Linked DNA regions of Homo sapiens. The protein of the gene in region 2 purifies or fractionates together with the protein of the main gene of each other region. This does not show direct contact. Each region holds a gene or a part of one and is shown on either strand. Other genes may lie near its edges.

Region 1 (4,875 bases), on a different chromosome or scaffold from region 2:
AATGAACAATTCCATAGAATAAACTTAAATGTTATGGAAGCTAGACCCTACCTGTGTGAGTTAGTGTTTCTTTCACTAGGGTCTGTCTTTCTAAGGATACGATTCATTGTTTTCTATCAACATTTTAAACATGTTTTAAATGGCAGGGTGGTATTTTTATAAACCTGTGCATCTGGAAGCTAGCAGAACATTCTCTCAGACAGCATGCTCCCCCTGTTAGACCATGACTTTAGCTCTCTGGCACCGCGCAGAGGCAGGAAGAAGCAAATATGCCTTTTGCTCCTCCGCAGATGTCTGCCAGCCCAGCAATTCAATGTCACAGCTAGCATGGGTTTTTCATGAGGCTGAGAACACCTGTTACCTGTATATGTGATTGCCTGAGATGAGGGTGGGCTGGAAGGAGAGGAGGAGGAGGGGAGGGGATGCTGGGTGACTTGGCAAGGAGCCCTCTTCACAGAGTGAACAGGCAAAAGGAAAATTTGCTTTGGGGGAGGGTGGATCCTAGTGAGGAGAGGGAGCCTCAGGACCTCTGTTTGTGATCCTGAGCAAAACATCGACCCTCTTCCATCTGCCCACCTGTAAAAAAAGAAGGAATAAGGACCGTCATTTCTCTCCATTTCTGAGAGAACTGAGGAACAAGTGAGAGCGGAGGGAGGCGTGCTGAAATGCCTGCAGGGGCCTCTGTGGGTCCCAGGGCCTCCCTCATTCTGGGTCTTTCTGCAGTGCCAGGAAACCCTCTGGGAAGTTCTTTCTTCTACACCAGAGAATGTCATGACAGCTGCAGTACTTTCAGCCATGACAAGTAGAGGAGCAGACACTGTCCACACTGTACCAGAGAGCCAAATGGCGGGTCCCCTCTCTGACTCCAGAGTAGGCCTGGTGTCCAGAGATCCCCAACAGACATCTGCTCACACCTAGATTAAAGCTACATTTATATAAACCAGGCTGGGGGCACACCTGAGAACTCTGCTCATCCTCAAAAGAGACAGTTAAGATGGGGGTCAAGTTCCCTCTGCTCTAAGTCCTTTTGGGAATGGCTGTGTCACATGAATAGAGATGATCTGGGCTCTAACCTCGCCTCTCAGAACACAGCACGTGCAACCAGATCCAGAAAAAGCCCCGTGCAGGGCCGCAGCCATCTGCCCCGGCTGCCTTACCTCTCTGTATACTGCCTCACTACACAATGGTGGGGTGCCTTCCTACTTCTGTCATTCCCCTCTCCACTACGCTGACAATTTTTAAGTAAAAAACAACACAAACACATTTCCTCACAAGATGACACATTCCACCTGGCCCTAGACTCTGCACTCAACAACACAGGGACAAAACTGGAAGAGAAATATGACACCCAATTCTGCCAACAGCATGTGAAATGGAAAAGGTAAGACAGAGGCCAAGCCCCAAGTTACTCAACAGAAAGATAGATTCTGGAGAATATTCTAGACAACCAAACAGGTAAGAGCAGAGGTGCAGGAAACTGGAGGGGATTTGCCTGCAATGGAACTCCAGCTGTGAACACGGAGAAAAAGGGCACATTTAAAGAAGGCCTTCATCATGGTCATCTGGTGAGGGTAGGGACTGGGAGAGGGACAGTGAGGGTGAACATGAAAAGGCCCTGGCCAGACGGCACCTGTGGGCCAGGTGATGGGCAGCAGAGGCAGCAAGGTGGGCTTCTTGATGACAGTTGGGGAGCTTGCAGGAAGGCCTGGGCAGGAGAAGCTGACCTTACTTTGCAGACAAGGGGTGCAGCCAGGCCACAGCAGGTAAGTGGCCCACCCAAACTCACGCAGCACACAGAAGTGAAGCTGCAATTCACTGCACACCATTCTGTAACCAACAGATGGAGACACCAGAGTGAGTGAGCACCACTCACTGCCTGAGGAATGCAGGGGAAACAAGACACCCAGGTGGGATAAAAGAAAAAAACTCAAGAGGACCCCCCGGGCCTCCTGCTGGAGTAGCAGGGCCAGGCTGCTCACAGGACAAAAGGAAATCACCCCCACGCATGTTCCAGGCACAACCCGGGGCAGCAGAAATAATAGGGACCAGTGTCCTAGATTGGCTCCTCTCTCAGGCACCTGTGTCTGTCCCCTCCTGCTGTCTGGGCTGGCAGCTGGCAGCTACAGGCAGAGGAGCTGGACCAAAGCTGTATGGTTCACCTGCTCGCACCCCGACACCATGTCCTCTCTGTACACGCTTAGATCCCCTCCTCCATGCCAGCTCGACTGCGTGCCATGCTGCGCAGTGAGTTCCCCGGGGCCAGCTGGTCCTGCTCCCCACCTGAGGCCTCTTTTCTGTTGGTGTGGGCTTTCCTGCTTGGGAGGCACACTCACCGTAGGTGAAGAAGCTCGGCAGATAGAGGACCTTCCTCCCCAGCACATTGGTCCCAAGGGTGGGGGGCATCGGCTCATGACCCACCTTCAGAATTAACAAAGACAAAGGGACGCTCAGAGTCTCGTGGTGATTCAGCCTCACCACCTCTCCTCACACCTCTTGCCCCCTTTGCTTAACTCTTCTCCCACAAATTCTAATGTGGCTCTTGTTCATGTTTTCCCCATCAAAGCATACCAGAAAGCTCGTCAGTGTCTCTAACCATTGGCAGCACGTAAACTCCCAATCAACAGAAATGCCTGGTCCCAGACACTGTCCAACCACAATCCAAGTCACACCCACACCCCAACATTCTTACATTCAAATCCCAAATATTCCCAGTAGAGAAACCTCCATTTGTATGTACTGCAAACCCTACTCCCATCTCAGAACAAATCTCAGTTATTCTCATCTCCAGATGAAAAACTTCATTCCAACCTCAATTCCAAATGTGGCAATAAGAAAATACATCATACCCAAACCTCAGACAGGTCAGCCATTAAGTCATCTATTCCAAAGTGCACCCCAAACTCAAATTTCTTACCAAATCTACTGCAGACACCTCCATGTCTATTCCTCCCATTCCCAGGCTTAGCAAACTGTTACCTCAAATTCCAGCTACTCCTCAAACATATCCTTAGCTGCGTTCTCACCTCAATCACCCTACATCCCTGTGACAAAACGACCCCCTCATTTCTGTAGGGCTATGATAGTTCTTGCTGTACAGATGCTTCTTATATCTGAAATATTTATTTATTTATTTTTTTTTTTGAGATGGAGTTTCACTCTTGTTGCCCAGGATGGAGTGCAATGGCGTGCTCTCAGCTCACCGCAACCTCCACCTCCTCCACCTCCCGGGTTCAAGTGATTCTCCTACCCCAGCCTCCCAAGTAGCTGGGAATACAAGCACCCGCCACCATACCCGGCAAATTTTTTGTATTTTTAGTAGAGACGGGGTTTCTCCATGTTGGTCAGGCTGGTCTCGAACTCCCGACCTCAGGTGATCCACCCGCCTCGGCCTCCCAAAGTGCTGGGATTACAGGCATGAGCCACTGCGCCCAGCCTGAAATATTTATTAAACCCGCGGGTGGGTGAAGGACCATCCATATCCATGTGAGGAGCAGGAAGTCTCTGTCGAGGGGTGAGAGCCCCTGCTGCCAGGGAGGAGGCAAGGTGTCAAGGAGACCAGCACCTAGGTGGGGAGTGAGAAGGCTCCTTCCTCCCTTGGCAAGGGGCCAGGATACCAGCCCTGTGCCCTCTAAGCAGGCCAGCTGGGCCCATGGACCAGAGCGATTCCTCTGACATGTGGGAGAGGATTTGGCCTGCAGCTGTGGGAGGCAGTAGAAGTGGCAAGTTAGAAAGCGCTACCTTGTAAACTGGATTAGGTATGCTTCCAGTGCTTTTTGGGATCAACCCTGTCCCCTTTTGCCTTTATCAAGCAAGTGCTTTTCAAAGTTCAGGCTATCTCCTATGGATCTGATTCTGAGATGCCTAACAGATTAATGATTGTAAATTTAAAAACTCCTCTATGATGGGGACTGTCTTTAAAAGAAAAAAATTTTGACCCAGTGGAGCAAAGGAGGAAAGGGGTGAGTCAGCTGACCCAGGCAGTGAGTACTTCCCTTCTAGACCTTTTCCCTTCTGGGTTAAAAGCTCCAAGGTTGTTCTGAATTAAGTTTTGTCTTGATCTGTGTTCTCTTAAATACAGGTGGTATTCCTTTATTCCTCCACTCCAAATCGCCACAACTGCTCTTTTGCTGTCCTTATCCAGTTTAGTCAACACTATTTGGGAGTCCCACTGACCCCAATTTCATACTTAAATTTGTAACGTTATCCCATATCCCCATGGCTCCCAAATCTGTTGAATCTATTTTCTTAACTTCTATTGGGTTATCATAGGCACACTGGCTGTATCTCACCCCCATTCCTCCTGCCTTCAAGTTTTAATTATTTGTTCCCAAGTCATTAAACCCAATTTCAACCTCAAATCTGTTAACCCAGTCCTAACTACGGCAAATGCTGTGGCCCTATATCAGATACCAGCAGGGACAGTCTGTCATCTTAAAATCTCCGACTCCCAAACCTGACAGCCACATGCACTAATCTAAGGCACTGCATTCTTACGCACCTAATCTAGACAATCCCCAAATCTGTCACTCCACTCCTGACACCCCCACTCCCAGTAATTTGCCTTTCTGCAAGTTATTACTCTGATTCCCAAACTATACCCATTGAAGATCTTACCCTAATATATGTTACACTCAACACCAGCTGGGTTCAAATCAGACAGGCACCTCTGGTCCTTCAACAGGGCTCATCCATCCTTACCTGCCCACCATCTAGTTCTTCTCACGCTTTGGTGTCCTTCATTCCCCCATTCCCTTCCCAAACCACCCTCATTTCAATGTTCTTTCAAACCAGATCTGCCATCATCCAAATGATGAAGCCACTTCTTCATTTCCCTCACACTGAGCCCTTGTGCTCCAGTATCCTTCACTCCACAGA
Region 2 (4,347 bases):
TTTAAGATGGAAATATAAAAGGAAATGAACTTTCTAAGCTTTTCAGATTACTCCCAGTATAGCAACTTTCAAATTACATAGGAGTTTGTAAATCTTTAAAGAAAAATGTGTAGTTTTGTCCAAAACAAAAACAGTGCCTCATATTTTTATGGAAAAATAAAATTCTAATCACTAGATGATAGTTATGGTGCTGCTTAATGATGAAGAATATTCTACATAGCGACATGAGAATGAAGGTTTTTTTCCTTCAAAAAGTACATAGTTGCAAATACTTCAAAAATTCTAGCGGCCGGGTGCGGTGGCTCAAGCCTGTAATCCCAGCACTTTGGGAGGCCGAGGCGGGCAGATCACGAGGTCAGGAGATTGAGACCATCCTGGCTAACACGGTGAAGCCCCATCTCTACTAAAAATACAAAAAAATTAGCCAGGCATGGTGGCGGGCGCCTGTAGTCCCACCTACTCAGGAGGCTGAGGCAGGAGAATGGCGTGAACCCAGGAGGCGGAGCTTGCAGTGAGCCGAGATCGCGCCACTGCACTCCAGCCTGGGAGAAAGAGCGAGACTCCGTCTCAAAAAAAAAAAAAAAAAAATTCTAAGTATAGGCTGGGCATGATGGCTCACACCTGTAATCCCAGAACTTTGGGAGGCCAAGGTGGGCGGATCATGTGAGGTCAGGAGTTCAAGACCAGCCTGGCCAACATGGCAAAACCCTGTCTCTACTAAAAACAGAAAAATTAGCCAGGTGTGGTGTCATGCGCCTGTAATTCCAGCTACTTGGGAGGCCAAGGCATGATAATTGCTTGAACTCAGAAGACAGAGGTTGCAGAGAGCCGAGATGTGCCACTGAACTCCAGCCTGGGTGACAGAATGAGAATCTGTCTCAAAAAAAAAAAACAACAAAAAACAAAAAACAACAAAACAAAAAAGAAAAAAGTAAGTAACCTATCAAGTAAGACATCAAACTATAAATGCATGTCTATTTCTGATACATTCTAATTTTAAAAGTTTATAAATTCATTTTCACATCAATTTCAATTGGACGAAGGAGGGAGAAGAAACAATGAACCTACACTATCCTCTTTTTCTTTCATGTTAAGAAACAGACACTTTCCCTCTAAATTGTCAGCATAAAGGTTTTAAAAACTATAAAAATTGGGAAACCAATCTGATTCATCTGGCTATAGATCAAATGAATGTCAGGCCTCAAGAGGGTAATGTGGTAATATCAAACAGGTAGCAAAAAGTATGCATTGAGCACAACCAGGACAGTGACAAGAAAATAATTTGGGGATAAATACAGATGCCACATTAAATAGACTATGAAAGATGTAAAACTCAAATCCCCTTTTAAATAAATCTTATCTAAAAGAAGGATTATAGAAAATGGGAATGTATGATTTTTTTAATAAAACAATTCTGCTTCAGTGCAAATATGTAGTCCAAAACAACAAAAAAAGAAAATGTCTTATGTGACTTAGCACGAACAGTTTCCACAGCCTTTCACACTATTGACAATTTCTTCTTGTAGTTTCTTTCTTTCCTCCTCTTTGGATATATTTTCTTTCTTTGCTTCCCATTTGGGGTTATCATGGTTCTGCACACGGCTGCTCTGTGTATGCCACATTTCTGAATAGATACTATGAGGGTTAGCAAGCAAACCATGGTGGGTACCACGTTCGGCTACCTTACCCTAAAAAGTAAACACATGAGAAACACGGAGAAAGGTCATTTAACTAGCATAATAACTGAAAATACCAAATACTTTCTAACTAAGGAGTTTGAAGGATTTGCATTCATTAAAATACTTCTCCCAATTCCTCATACACAGTATAAGTGAAAAAAATTTAGGTAGGAATGCTTTCCTCCCTGTTGAGCTACCCAGTGCCAGAACAAACAAAAGGCTATAAAATTTCTAATACCATAAACACCATTTTATTTAAAGGAAATAAAATTGTAATGTTTCATTTGTCATTTTGAAGGGAAGAAAGGGAAGGTTAAAATGTAAACAGGTGATATTTTCTGTAATCAGCAAATATTCAAATCAAAAGCACTGTTATTTACAGAGACTTAAAAGATTTAAAAATAATATCCTTAAATCCTTATGTGTACTTTGAAATAAAAAAGATTTCATAAAATAAAAAAGATTTAATGAAAATGAAAAGTTTACTTCTTCCAGTGGCTATTTTTGTTAACAATGGTTATTAAACTTAACACTGCAAAGATTTGGTGGTATAGATTCCAAACTCTCATCTACAATTAATTTGTTTCTTGATAGCTACGGTTAACCATGCTGAGAGACAAAAGGACTTCTGTCACTTTTACTGGTATTCCTGGTAACAAGACTTTTACAATAAACCCTTAAGTAAAATAACTGAAATGTCTGTGCCTACATTTAAGTATTTACATGTAAGGTTATACCACTATTCCTTGATTTATTCATTTCTGGCATTATCTACTAACTTCCTACTATGGAATACGGAGATTCAACACTCATACTATCCCACATTCCCACTACTACATCATATACTCTCCTAATAACATCAGTTACATCACAAATTTTGATTCAGTGTTTACCTTATTACGACTTTGTAAGTATTCCCTGCTTAGCTAAGTAGGTACTAGGATTTTATATTTATTTTCTTATATAGTCTTTTAATTCTCCTAGACTTAGTAACTTCCTTGTTTTTTTTTTTCATTTGCTTAGTTTTCTGTGTCACTATTGGAAATCTCTCCAAAGTTTATTACACAATCACAAAACCCTTCTCAACAGTATTTTTCTCATAATCAACTACATTAAGTAATCTATTAGTTTATTTCACCTCACCACCCAGAGATATTCCCTTCAGAGCTTTTAGGTTGTTTTCTACATCCTCAATTCTGAAATTGTATGATAATGTGCCCTGGTACAGCTTTATTTTTCCTTTCCATTCATTGTGGTGGGTACTCAGGCCCTTTCAATCTAGAAACTCTTGCTCTGAAGTTCTAGACACTTTTTTGGTATTACTTTCTACGGCAAAAACCACAATAACTTTTGTACCAACCTACTATTTGACAATTTCCTCCCCTGTTTCTGGCCTCTCTAGAACTACCACTAGTCAGATGTTGGACTTTTTAGATAAATTCTCTTGTTTTCTGATCTTTTCTCTATATTCTCTTTCTTTTGGAGATTTCCTTGACTTTATTTCAGCAAAGACATTTCTCATTTCAAAAATCTTGTTCTCAGGTCATTCCTTTATTTATTTATTCACCAAATCCATTTTAAAATTTTGAAATATTTCAAGAGTGACACAATGAACAACTTTATATGCTTCTCCTAGTTTGGCAACCATTATTTTTTCCTACATTTGCTTTCTCCACCTCACCTTCTCTCTATATATACATGATTTTTTTGCTACACAATCTGAGAATGAGCTGCAGACATCATTACACTTCACCCCTAAATATTTCATTAGCATGTATCTCCTAAAAACAAAGACATTCTCCTACATTACTGAAATACAACTATACCACACTCAGGAAATTTAACAATGGCCGGCCATGGTGGCTCATGCCTGTAATCCCAGTTCTTTGGGAGGCCGAGATGAGAGGATTGCTTGAGCCCAGGAGTTTGAGACTAGCCTGGGCAACATGATGAGACACCCCCCCGCCCATCTCTACCAAAAAAAAAAAAAAAAAAAAAAAAAACAACCAAAAAACACACACAAAAAACTGAACAGTGATACGATATTCTTATTTAACATACAGTCCATATTCAAACTTCATCAATTGTACCAATAATGTCCTTTATACTTTTTTTCCATCTAGGATCCAATCAGGATCAACACATTGAATTTATAACAGCTTCGTTCTAGTCTGTGTGTGTTTGTGACATTGATATTTCTAAAATGTCCAGTCCTGTTTTTAAAAGACTGCCCTTCAATTTGTATTTGTCTAGTTGTTTCTGATTATTAGATTCAGGCTAAATTTTTTTTTTTTGAGATAGACTCTTGCTATGTTGCCCAGGCTGGTCTGGAACTTCTGGGCTCAGGTAATCCTCCCACCTCTGCCTCCCAAAGTGCTGTTATTACCAGCATGAGCCACCATGCCCAGCCCAAGTTAAACATTTTGGGTAGAAAGAAAAGATAATACATCTTCAGTGCATTACATCAGGAGGTACATGAGTTCAATTTGCTCCATTACTGATATTAGGTTTGATCAATTGGTTAAGGTGACATCTACCAGTTTCTCTATTTCTCTATTTTCAAGGTATTTTTTCTCTAATTAGTAAGTAACCTATGGTAATTTCAAACCGTGCAAATATTCTAGCCTCAATAGCTTTATACCATATGGTTTCAGCAACCAGTGAGGAC

Evidence for each region. The genes of interacting proteins can lie anywhere in the genome.
Region 1: the proteins of ABCB7 (region 2) and MTCH1 fractionate together in Homo sapiens (co-fractionation; one large-scale study listed by BioGRID). This does not show direct contact.

The regions. Positions count from the first base shown.
Region 1 is NC_000006.12:36,979,255-36,984,129, forward strand, and holds part of MTCH1 (mitochondrial carrier homolog 1), read right to left. Parts: intron 2,419-4,875; coding exon 2,334-2,418; intron 1-2,333.
Region 2 is NC_000023.11:75,051,898-75,056,244, forward strand, and holds part of ABCB7 (iron-sulfur clusters transporter ABCB7, mitochondrial), read right to left. Parts: intron 1,689-4,347; coding exon 1,473-1,688; 3' UTR 1-1,472. UniProt on the Homo sapiens protein: Exports glutathione-coordinated iron-sulfur clusters such as [2Fe-2S]-(GS)4 cluster from the mitochondria to the cytosol in an ATP-dependent manner allowing the assembly of the cytosolic iron-sulfur (Fe/S) cluster-containing proteins and participates in iron homeostasis.